2 linked regions of the Homo sapiens genome follow. The protein of the gene in region 2 interacts with the protein of the main gene of each other region in a pairwise test. Each region holds a gene or a part of one and is shown on either strand. Other genes may lie near its edges.

The links.
Region 1: the proteins of TCN2 (region 2) and PAXIP1 interact in a two-hybrid assay, tested with the Homo sapiens proteins (one study listed by BioGRID and IntAct).

The regions. Positions count from the first base shown.
Region 1 is NC_000007.14:154,944,106-154,951,402, forward strand, and holds part of PAXIP1 (PAX-interacting protein 1), read right to left. Parts: intron 5,386-7,297; exon of another isoform or gene 5,193-5,385; intron 3,986-5,192; exon of another isoform or gene 3,899-3,985; coding exon 3,798-3,898; exon of another isoform or gene 3,793-3,797; intron 3,669-3,792; exon of another isoform or gene 3,588-3,668; intron 2,748-3,587; exon of another isoform or gene 2,709-2,747; coding exon 2,574-2,708; exon of another isoform or gene 2,488-2,573; intron 2,483-2,487; coding exon 2,407-2,482; intron 2,389-2,406; exon of another isoform or gene 2,321-2,388; coding exon 2,260-2,320; exon of another isoform or gene 2,255-2,259; intron 516-2,254; exon of another isoform or gene 60-515; coding exon 44-59; 3' UTR 1-43.
Region 2 is NC_000022.11:30,623,989-30,627,883, reverse strand, and holds the end of TCN2 (transcobalamin-2 isoform 1 precursor), read right to left. Parts: intron 1,425-3,895; coding exon 1,363-1,424; 3' UTR 613-1,362; downstream 1-612. UniProt on the Homo sapiens protein: Primary vitamin B12-binding and transport protein. Delivers cobalamin to cells.

The sequences.
Region 1 (7,297 bases), on a different chromosome or scaffold from region 2:
CCCCGCACCGCAGGAGTCGACATGCACGGCAGCCTAGACGCCATCAGTTAAACTTATATGTAGGCTTGTTGAGGAAAACGACTTTCAAACACAAGGCAAAAGAAAAACATGAAACCAAGGGTTCCAACATTCATCATCCAGTTTCAGAGACACCCTTGAAGGAATGCTACAGCCTCTTTCTTACCCATTCAAACCAGTCGCTCTGCTGCATACCCACATCACAGGAGGCCCTCAGCCCCGACACACAGGCTCACTCAGCCCGGGGACATCAGCACCTGTGCCAGCTCCGCAAGGTATCCACCATGCGGCCAGAACTGAGGCCCAGCAATAGCTGAAATGTCCTTTAAATTAACATGTACAACACACAACCCCCAAGAGCTGACATCCCCAAAGCCCCACCACAAATAGCTGACTCCTACTTATACCTGCAGGAGCAGGTAGTGACCTCTGCAATTCTAAACCGTCCACTTTGGGCAAAATTCATCAAGCTATGGATATGAAAAAAGGCCCCCAAGGTAATACTCATAAGTCTCCTGTATGACTTTTAAAGCAATTTCTTCTGAAAGTAAATGTAGTGTAGAACAGGCTTTCACAAATACAAACATGAATGTTAGGAAAAAGTCTGGAAAAAATGCAAGAGTACATGTTGTATAAAAACCAAATGCTTATAGCATATCTGTAAAAATTTAACAGGCCTCTTATCATTCCTATCAGTAGCTCCTACAATAATTTTCTAATAGATGGCGGTATGGAATACAGCAAGCTCTGGTATGAATGGTAAGAGCGTTTCTGCACCAAGCCTCATTCCAACTAGACAGGCTATTTATTTATGGCTAAACATGACATTGGATTCTGGGACTGAGGCAAATTTTACTTCTTTTTTTTTTTTTTTTTTTTTAAAGACAGAGTTTCGCTCTTGTTGCCCAGGCTGTAGTGCAATGGCGCGATATTGGCTCACTGCAACCCCTGCCTCCCAGGTTCAAGTGATTCTCCTGCCTCACCAAGTAGCTGTGATTACAGGTACCCGCCACCATGGCCAGCTAATTTTTTCTATTTTTAGTAGAGCCAGGGTTTCACCATGTTGGCCAGGCTGGTCTCGAACTCCTGATCTCAGGTGATCCACCTGTCTTGGCCTCCCGTGCTGGGATTATAGGCATGAGCCACCACGTCCGGCCAAATTTTACTTCTTAAAAGTGCTTTTCTCTCAGTGATATCAAGGTCTTCTGTCTACTATTATAACCATAAGCTCTTTAGCGTTAAGAGGAAAATGTTTGATAAATGTAATTAACTGGATGAATGTCAGTGTATTTAAATGTAAATATACTTAAATGTAATTACCTGGATGAAACAGGCACACACGAAGAAAAAAAAACTCGGCAAGGATGGGTATCATTCTGACCTCTGCGCCTTACTGAAGCAGTCCTATCCCAAACACAAAATTCCCCTGCTTAAGGAAAGGTCCACTGAGGTTGACACTGGTCAGAGGTGGCAGAGGCTCCCACCCTCACAGAGAGGAGGAGCTCCAGCCTCATTGCAGGAGGCCCAGGGAGAAGTCCTGAGAACAGCCCTGAGAGAAGGTGCTCTGCAATGGGAAACGGAAGTGGAAACAGAATTTTCCCATAAGGACCTGTAAGGCATGTTTTGCTTCACTGATAGGCTGTTCCTACATTAAAATAATAATTCAGAGATTTTTAATAAGGAATTCAAATAACAGATGATGAGCTTTATTTTTTCCTGAATGTCTGAAATAGAAAAAAGCCTAGGTGTCAATATTCTAAAGACTGACCTTTGCATTTTCCTGACATGTTGATGAAGTATTCATTCTGCCGCTTCCATTTAGTAGTAATTTATCTCCCATCCCAAAGTTCCTGAGTACAAAGACTATATACGAACTAAATTTCATTTGGAAAACTACAAACTCAAAGGTGAGCTGATAAAAAGAAACATATATTTATTTTTGCAATTATTTTCTATTTTATCTAATTGTCAAATTCTTTAATACCTCCATAAACTAGACAGTATAGATCCTTTCTAATTAACATCACCTATTAAAACTGAACTCTCAGTAAGTTAAGAGAATATTTTTACTAGCAACTCAAATGAATATTCTGAAGAGAAAAGAATTGTTCACTGCATAAATCACAATAGCAAAGAAAGGAAAAATGGCTTGCAAAACAGGAAAGGTACTGCCTTATTAACCTGGGAAATCCATTTCATATCTAACCCGTCTACTTTTTAATTCTCTTTTGGAAAGGATATGATTCATAGTCCAGCGTTTGAGTGAGCACTCCAGTCAGAACGAACTCTGCATTGTGAACATCTGAACAGGGTGGAAACAGACACTTTAGTTAGAGATCCACTGCTGTGCGTGCACACATACTCACACAGGTAAGCGGGGAAACGTACCTATGCCTCTGGCAAAATATTCTCGGCATAAATGAAGGTCATTTTCACAGGATATTAAAATTATTTCCGACAAACTCTAAGGAAAAGAAAATGAGTTTCTCAGTGACCGAACGCTGAATGTGATACAGGGCAATGACGGACTCGCTGGCGGACTCCACTCTACCCACCGAGTTCTGCTTGTGCTCCATGAGCTTCCGGAAAGATGGCTGCTTGGATAACACCTTTCCTCCTGCACACTCTACGATTGCCTTCATAGTGGAAAGACTTGGGCAGATTCCAGGTGTGATGTAAAAATATTTTGCCTAAAATTAAATGAAAATATATGTATTATGTTCTTAAAATGCTTTAATTTTTAGAGTACATAATTCTCATAGATTCTGCCCTGAGATTTTTGACAAAATTTCAAATTTTATGACATTATGAAGGTACTATTCTCCTACTAGCACTCAATCTGAAGTGGAAGAGGAATCCAGCTATGTAAATTTGGAATGTAAGCATTTTCACATGTTAAGTATGCCTGAAGATGATTTAAAGTAACCAGAACTTAAGTCCCTAAAACAAAGTGTTTTGTGAATAAGCAAGAATATTACAAATATTTTTCACAATTTCTATACAATTTTAAATCAGCATTATATTTCACCACACTTATCTGCCCAGCAACAGCCTCTGGCATAGCATGCTGCCTGGCTTATATCCCTTTTCTTTATTTTCTCCATATTATTTGAACTCAGAGCAGGAAATGATATTGATGCTTAAGATTTAATTATCTAACAAGATTGCTCCTGAGGATACCACAAAATACTATTCTGTCTGAAACTGCAAATAATTTCTAATTCCTGTTGACTCCTTAAGAAGGTTAAAGAACCGATTATCTTTATTGATTTACTTAGTTCTTTGGTACAAAAAAAATTCCTAGCTGTTCTAACACTTATCTAACATTTAAAAATCTTTTAGTACTGAATTATATCTATGCACACACTGAATATTTTCCCAAGTATCTTCTCCAGCTGAATATACATTTACTGACAATAGTACGAAGTAAGCGATGTCCTCTAAAGATTTATTAAAAGCAGAAAAATGAACATGCCTCTTAACCAATTACTCAAAAACCTATTCTTTGAATAACTTATTTCTCATAGATGTATTTATTAAATTTGTGTACTTATTTTTAAACATTATAGTAAAGAAAAGTTCTCTAGAGATGTGCTGTGGTTCACAGGAGGAAGACCTCCAGTGGCAATGTCCAAGAAGGAAGCCAAGAGGTAAATGGGATGCAGGGTGAGCCCAGCTCCCCTGGAGGCGCACTTCCCACCAAATCACCTGGTAGTTCCCTTGAGCAGGTCCGTGTGTTATGCTTACTTGGACTGATTTACTTTTCCCTTAAAGTGTACCTTAAAGAGTGGAGAAACGTGTGCCCGTTTTAAGGATTCTTCCAAGCTGAAAGAGAAAAGTACTTCTGCCTCAGCATCTCGGAGAATGTAGTTCTGCTCATCTGGAAAACAGAACAGCACATACTCTGAAAAGTGTGGACACGTGAAGTGTGGCAAGTGTGACCCACAAAATTCTCGCCCATATTCAGGTACATAATATTACAGCTACATTTACCTGTACAGCCTTCGGATATTTAAATGTCACCATTATATTTCATTTACTTCCCTCTAAAAACAGCCAGACCAAAAAGACAGACAGGTATTTTTTCTCCTAGATCAGTGGTAATTAACCATTTGGGGTCATAAACTCTTGAAAAAAACGGGCTGGGTGTGGTGGTTCATGCCTGTAATTCCAGCACTTTGGGAAGCCGGGGAAGGAAAGCTGCTTGATGCCAGGAGTTCGAGAACAGCCTGGGCAACACAGTGAGACTTCATCTCTACAGAAAAATTTTAAAATCAGCTTGGCATGGTGGCATGTGCCTGTAGTCCCAGCTACTCGGGGGACTGAAGTGGGAGGATCGCTTGAGTCTGGGAAGTTCGAGGCTGTGGTGAGCCATCATTGCACCACAGCACCCCAGCCTGGGCAACAAAGTGAGATCTGGTCTCAAAATAATAGTAATTTTTTTTTTTTTAACAACAAAAATGTAAAAAAAGAAAAAAAAAATTACTGAAAAATATGAACCCTCTTCCCATAGCTGCTCCTCCCCTCTTTACCCCCCGACTATTTTAGGAAGTTCACCAACTTTCCAAGCCCGCAGATCTCAGGTTAAAATCTCCAGTCCTAGAAAGACAAGCTTCAAATAATCCCATCCAAGTGTATATTATATATATATATGTTATATATATACACTAACTCCTCAAGGACTTGTAGGACATTGGAGTCATTTGGCTCATAATCAATTATGTGAATTACCAAACTTTAAAGATTTACCAAACACACATTCAAGTATATAAAAGTATACAGCAATTTATAAAGGATAGTTTTATCAATTTTTAAAGACTTCTGACAATTATTAATAATTGACAGATTTTCAGTTTTCATAGCAACATTTTAAGAAATGTGTCAAAAGGTAAAGATCACAAAATGTTTCAATCTTCCTATAAATATGCCTCATATTCAGAAAACCATTTCTCCTCCGCCGCCATTTCCTACCAACCATACAGCATAATAAGGCAGCTCAAACCCAATAATATATACATCAAAAGCAGAAAACAAGGAAAAGTGATTTGGGATTGGCAAACTGGGGTTGACAAGATGATACATATTTTAGGATTTGTGGGCTATGTATTATTTCTCCTGCATATTCCTCTTCTCTTTTTTAAGCAATATTTAAAAAATGTAAAAACCATTTTCAGCGTATGGACCAGTTTGCTGACTGCTGGGCAGGAGCAACCACATCATGACAGAAATGCAGGGATCTGTTCACCAACGGCCAGAAATACAAAATCAATCCCTGAGTCAACCAGCAGATAGAAAGGCTGCTTTTTAGGTGAAAGGAGAAAAAGAATGTCTAAAATTTGGAAAAACAAAAAATGATGAATTAAAAAAGGAACAAAAAAAGTACTGTTACACATGAGATGGTATATTTGAAGTGTTACTTTCAAAGCTGATATGCCTTCTGAAGAACTTGTGTGAGATCACCAAGAATAGTTAATGTTTATGATAGAGAAAACACCACCGGGCGCGGTGGCTCACGCCTATAATCCCAGCACTTTGGGAGGCCGAGGTGGGCGGATCTCTTGAGGTCAGGAGTTCAAGACCAGCCTGGCCAACATGGTGAAACCCTGTCTCTACTAAAAAATACAAAAAAATTTAGCCAGGCGTCGTCGTGGTGGGCGCCTGCAGTCCCAGCTACTAGGGAGGCTGAGGCAGGAGAATGGCTTGAACCCAGGAGGCAGAGGTTGTAGTAAGCCAATGGCACCACTCTACTCCAGCCTGAGCAACAGACTGGGTGAGACTCTGTCTTAAAAAGAAAAGAAAGTAATATTGAAAAATACAGTAATACAGCTAAGACGATCCTGTCACAGATGAGACATTGAGATTTTGGTTTTTTCAAACAGGGTTATGTTACCTTAGTAGTAGCAATGTAAAGACTCAACCTGAACATTAAACTTTTCATGGAAGTACAAAAGAAATGAGTATCCTAGAAATTGATTATAATATTGATGTCTCAAATTTTATGTAAGTTACACATAAATATAAAATCCCAAAAACATGCACCTACCAAAACAGGTGGAGAAAAGAGTGTTTTCAACAAATGATGCTGGAACAACTGCACATCCATATGCAATAAAAGGAAGCTGGACACAGACTTTACCCTCTTTTAAAAAAAACTGACCCAAAAATGGAACACAGACCTAAATGTAAAATGCAAAACTATGAAACTCCTAGAAGATAACACAGGAGAGAATCTAAGGGACCTTGAGTTTGGCAATGACTTTTTAGATACAACACCAAAGACACAATCCATGAAAGAAATAAGAAGTAACCTGGACCTCACCTATTAGAATGGCCAAAACCCAGAGCACTAACACCAGCATATGCTGAGGAGGATGTGGAGCAACAGGAGCTCCCATTCACTGCAGGTGGGAATGCAAAATGGCACAGGCACTTCAGAAGACAGCCTGGCGGTTTCTTACAAAGCTAAACATACTCTTACCATATGATCAAGCAATTGCAACCTTGTTGATTTACCAAAAGGAGTTGAAAACTTACGTCCACACTAAAACCTGTACATGGATGTTTTAGCAGCTTTACTGCTAACTGCGAAAATTTAGAATCAGCTAAGATGTCCTTGTGTAGGTGAGGGGCTGAACAGATACATTCTGACAATGGAATATTATTTAGTGCTAAAAAGAAATGCTTTATGAAGCCATGAAAAGACATGGAGGAAGCTGGGACGTATATTGCTAAGCAAAGGAAGCAAATCTGAAAATCCTATATACTGTATGATTCCCAATATGTAACATTCTGGAAAGGGCAAGACTATAGAAAGAATAAAAGATCAGTGGTTGCCAGGGGTCAGCAGGCAGGAAGGAATGAGTGGGTGGAGCACAGAGGATTTTCAGGGCAGTGGAACAACTCCATATGACGCTGTAAAGCAAAATCATGTCCTTACACATTTGTTAAAACCCAATGACTGTTCAAGGCCAAGAGTGAGCCCTAATGTAACTATGGACTTTGGGTGACTGGCCAAGAGTGAGCCCTAATGTAACTATGGACTCTGGGTGACTAGCCAAGAGTGAGCCCTAATGTAACTATGGACTTCAGGTGACTGGCCAACAGGGAGCCCTAATGTAACTATGGACTTCGGGTGACTGGCCAAGAGTAAGCCCTAATGTAACTATGGACTTTGGGTGACTATGACCCAAATGTCAATGTAGCTTCATTAACAGTTAATAAACATTTCACTGTGGTGTGGGATGGTGACTGTAGTGGGGGTGGCGGTGTGTGTGCATGG
Region 2 (3,895 bases):
TGCCCTAATGGTGCCTTGTGGAAAAGCAGGGAGTGAGACCCTAGCTTCTGGGTCCCAGGGCTCCAGTTGAGTTGGGGCTCTGCCATACGATTATAACCATCATCGAAGCCCCTCATTTTCAGTATTTTAGTGGAGGAGCTGCAAGGCTGCCCCAGGCCAGGTCTGTGTCCCCTGAGCCAGGTTCCCCCAGCATCACTGCCTAGTCTGTGACCTTGGTGAGTCACTTTTCCTTTTTGAGCACCAGTTTCCTGATTTTTTTTTTTTTTTGAGAGTGTTTCTCTTCTTGCCCAAGCTGGAGTGCAATGGCGTGATCTCGGCTCACTACAACCTCCGCCTCCAGGGTTCAAGCAATTCTCCTGCCTCAGCTTCCCAAGTAACTGGGATTACAGGCATGCAGGCATGCAACACCATGCCTGGCTAATTTTTTGTATTTTTAGTAAAGATGGAGTTTCACCATGTTGGCCAGGCTGATCTCAAACTCCTGACCTTGTGATCCACCTGCCTTGGCCTCCTAAAGTGCTGGGATTACAGGCGTGAGCCACCATGCCCGGCCTCCCAGTTTCCTGATTTGTAAAGCACAGATAAAAATGAAAATATCAACAACCTCACAGAGCAGTTCAAGATAGTATCTAGCGAGTGAGTGCTCAGTCATAGTAGTGGGTGCTCAGTCAGTAGTCAATGTCATCACTGCTGGCATTCCCATCACTCCCCCAATGCCCACATGGCGGCTCAGGCACCCTCCACTCCTCCCTGATGGGGTTACTTCCCCCTTCTCTTGTCCCTGCCCCTGCACCTGAGGAGTATGAGGCACCAGGCCACTGTAGCAGGTCCACAGGCCATCAATGCTTTAATTTTGTCAGAGGCAGGCACTGAGCAGCCCTGCTGAGGTCTCCCCAGCTACTGTGCCACAACCAGCTCGGAGCTGCCACTCTAACAGCAGAGTGGAGAGCTGGGGTCAGGGCCATAGCCCCCGGGCTGAGGAGGCCTTCTTGCAGGACCCCAACCACAGAACGAGTGGTCTTCACAACACCTGCGGCCTGCGGACTCCGTTTTTTGCCAAGGAGTCTGAGATGCTTCATGCCCATCAGACCATGGGGTGGCCTTCATGGGAGACCTGCAGGGCCAGGCTGGCCAGACTTGGCCAGAAAGACTTCCCAGGGAAGATGCTTGGCTCTCTGCTCCAAGGTGGGCCATGGTATAGGGCCCTCGAAGGGCTTGTGGCTGGGGTGATCCCAGGGGGCATTGCTCAAAGTGCACAGGAGGTGGCAGCAGGGTCAGGCGAGTTCCTGTTCCAGGGACATCAGGAGGGAGGGTAGAAGCCTAGGGAGTGTGCGAGGCTGCTGGGATGAGGGAGCTCAGGGGCTACCAGCTAACCAGCCTCAGCTCAATGGTTTCTCCATCCTTGGGTCTGTAGTCAGCAATACCTGCAGAAACAGATTGAGCAAGGAGGGGCGAATTGGGCAGAATATCGCACCCCGCAACCTCATCTTCCAGACCCCCCACCCTGAGGCTAGAGTCTGTAAGAATCCACCTGGGGCTTGGTGGTGGGAAGCTGGAACCTCCCTAAAGCCTGCTCAAAGACTCTGAACTCAGCTTCCCACAGGGTTCCTGAGGCCATGACCTCATCTGGTAATAAAAACACCTGACAGGCAGGGCCACTGTCTTTGTAATACCCTAGGGACCATCAGGAAGAGAAACTTGCGCAGTGCAGTCTGGAGAGAGAACCAGGACCACGCAGAAGTCTCCCAGGAGTCAGCTTTCACTCACTACACAGAATCCAGGCTCTAGGAGGACGCCTGGATTCAAGCCCCAGCTCTGTCATTCATTACTGCTGTGACTCTGGACAAGTTATTTAACCTCTGAGTGAGTGTCGCTGCTCTTGTTGGTGATGTGGGAATGCAGCCTGCAGGGGAACTGAAAGGGCCCTTTGAGATAGCCAGGTGTCAGAAATGTTTCCTTTCAATGGAGGTGCTATGGTCTAAAATGTCTGTGTCCCCCCAAAATGTATATGTTAAAACCTAACCCCAAAGGTGATGGTATCAGGAGGCCTTAGGGCCTTTGGGAGATGATTAGGTCATGAGAGTAGAGCCTCATCAATGGGATAGGAAAGTGCCATTATAGGCCGAGCAGGGTGGCTCATACCTAGAATCCCAGCACTTTGGGAGGCCAAGGCAGGCAGATCACTTGAGTTCAGAAGTTCGAGACCAGCCTATGCAACATGGTGAAACCACATTTCTACTAAAAATACAAAAAATTAGCTGGGCTTTGTGCCATGGGCCTATGGTCACACGTACTCAGGAGGCTGAGGTGGGAGGATCGCTTAAGCCAGGGAGGCAGAGGTTGCAGTGAGCTGAGATTGTGATACTGCACTCAGCGTGGGTGACAGAGTGAGACCCCCATCTCAAAAAAAAAAATTTTTAAGTACCATTATAAAAGAGGTTCCTTCAGCAGGCAAGGGCCAGGAAAATATTTTTTTTTTTTAAATTAAAAAACAAGGCCCCAGAAAGTTGCCATGTTCCTTCCACCATGTGAGAACACAGCCAGCAGGTAACACCAGAAAGTGGGCCCCCATCAGACACTGAATCTGTCAGTGTCCTGATCTGGGACTGCCCACCCAACCTCCAGAACTGTTAAGAAATACATTTCTGTTATTTTATTTCATTTTGAGATGGAGTTTCACTCTTGTTGCCCAGGCTGAAATGCAATGGCGTGATCTCAGCTCACGGCAACCTCCGCCTCCTGGGTTCAAGCGATTCTCCTGCCTCAGCCTCCTGAGTAGCTGGGATTACAGGTGCCCGCCACCACCCCCAGCTAATTTTTTGTATTTTTAGTAGAGACAGGGTTTCACCATGTTGGTCAGGCTAGTCTTGAACTACTGATCTCAGGTGATCCACCTGCCTTGGCCTCCCAAAGTGCTGGAATTATAGGCATGAGCCACCGCACCCGGCCTCATTTCTGCTGTTTATAAGCCACCCAGTTTATGGTATTTTGTAATAGCAGCTTCAATGGACTAAGACAAAAGAGAACTCAAATTATAACTCCCATCCACTTTCCACCCCAAGGAAGATAGAGGAGTGATTTATGCAACTGGTTGATTTGGGAAGAATAAACTAGGCATGTGTAGCCTGGGCGCTATTTTTCTCCTGGGAGCGGGCTTCCTTCTAGACTCAAGGGCAGAGGGGGAAGGAGATAGAGGCTACAACTGCCCAGGTCTGCTTCCTGGCTGGGTCCACCTAGCTCTCACCCTCCTGTCTTTATCAGTAATAGAACTGGCCAGACTTGGGGTCTCCATCTGTAGCTCCTATTTTTTATTCCTCAATTTATTCAGAATGAGGGCAAGAAAAGAATGCTTTTTTGTGGGCTCCCTCAGAAAGTCCCACCTTCTCTATAAGCACTCGCCACAATGCTTGACACATGGTAAGTGCCCCATAAAAGTTCTTCAGGGGTGGAGTATCAAAGCAACTTAAATAACAAGAGTAGGAACAGATGACTTTTAAGGGTCTGTTTGCAGGCCAGGCGTGGTGGCTCACGCCTGTAATCCCAGCACTTTGGGAGGCTGAGGCAGGCAGATCACTTGAGGTCAGGAGTTTGAGACCAGCCTGGCCAACATGGTGAAACCCCGTCTCTACTAAAAATACAAAAATAACTGGGCATGGTGGCACACACCTGTAATCCCAGCTACTTGGGAGGCTGAGGCAGGAGAATTGCTTGAGCTCAGAAGGCAGAGGCTGCAGTGAGCTGAGACCTCGCCATTGTACTCCGGCCTGGGCAACAGAGCAAGACTCCATCTCAAAAAAAAAAAATATATATATATATATATATGTGTGTGTGTGTGTGTGTATATATGTATACATATATATGTGTGTATATATGTATACATATATATGTGTGTATA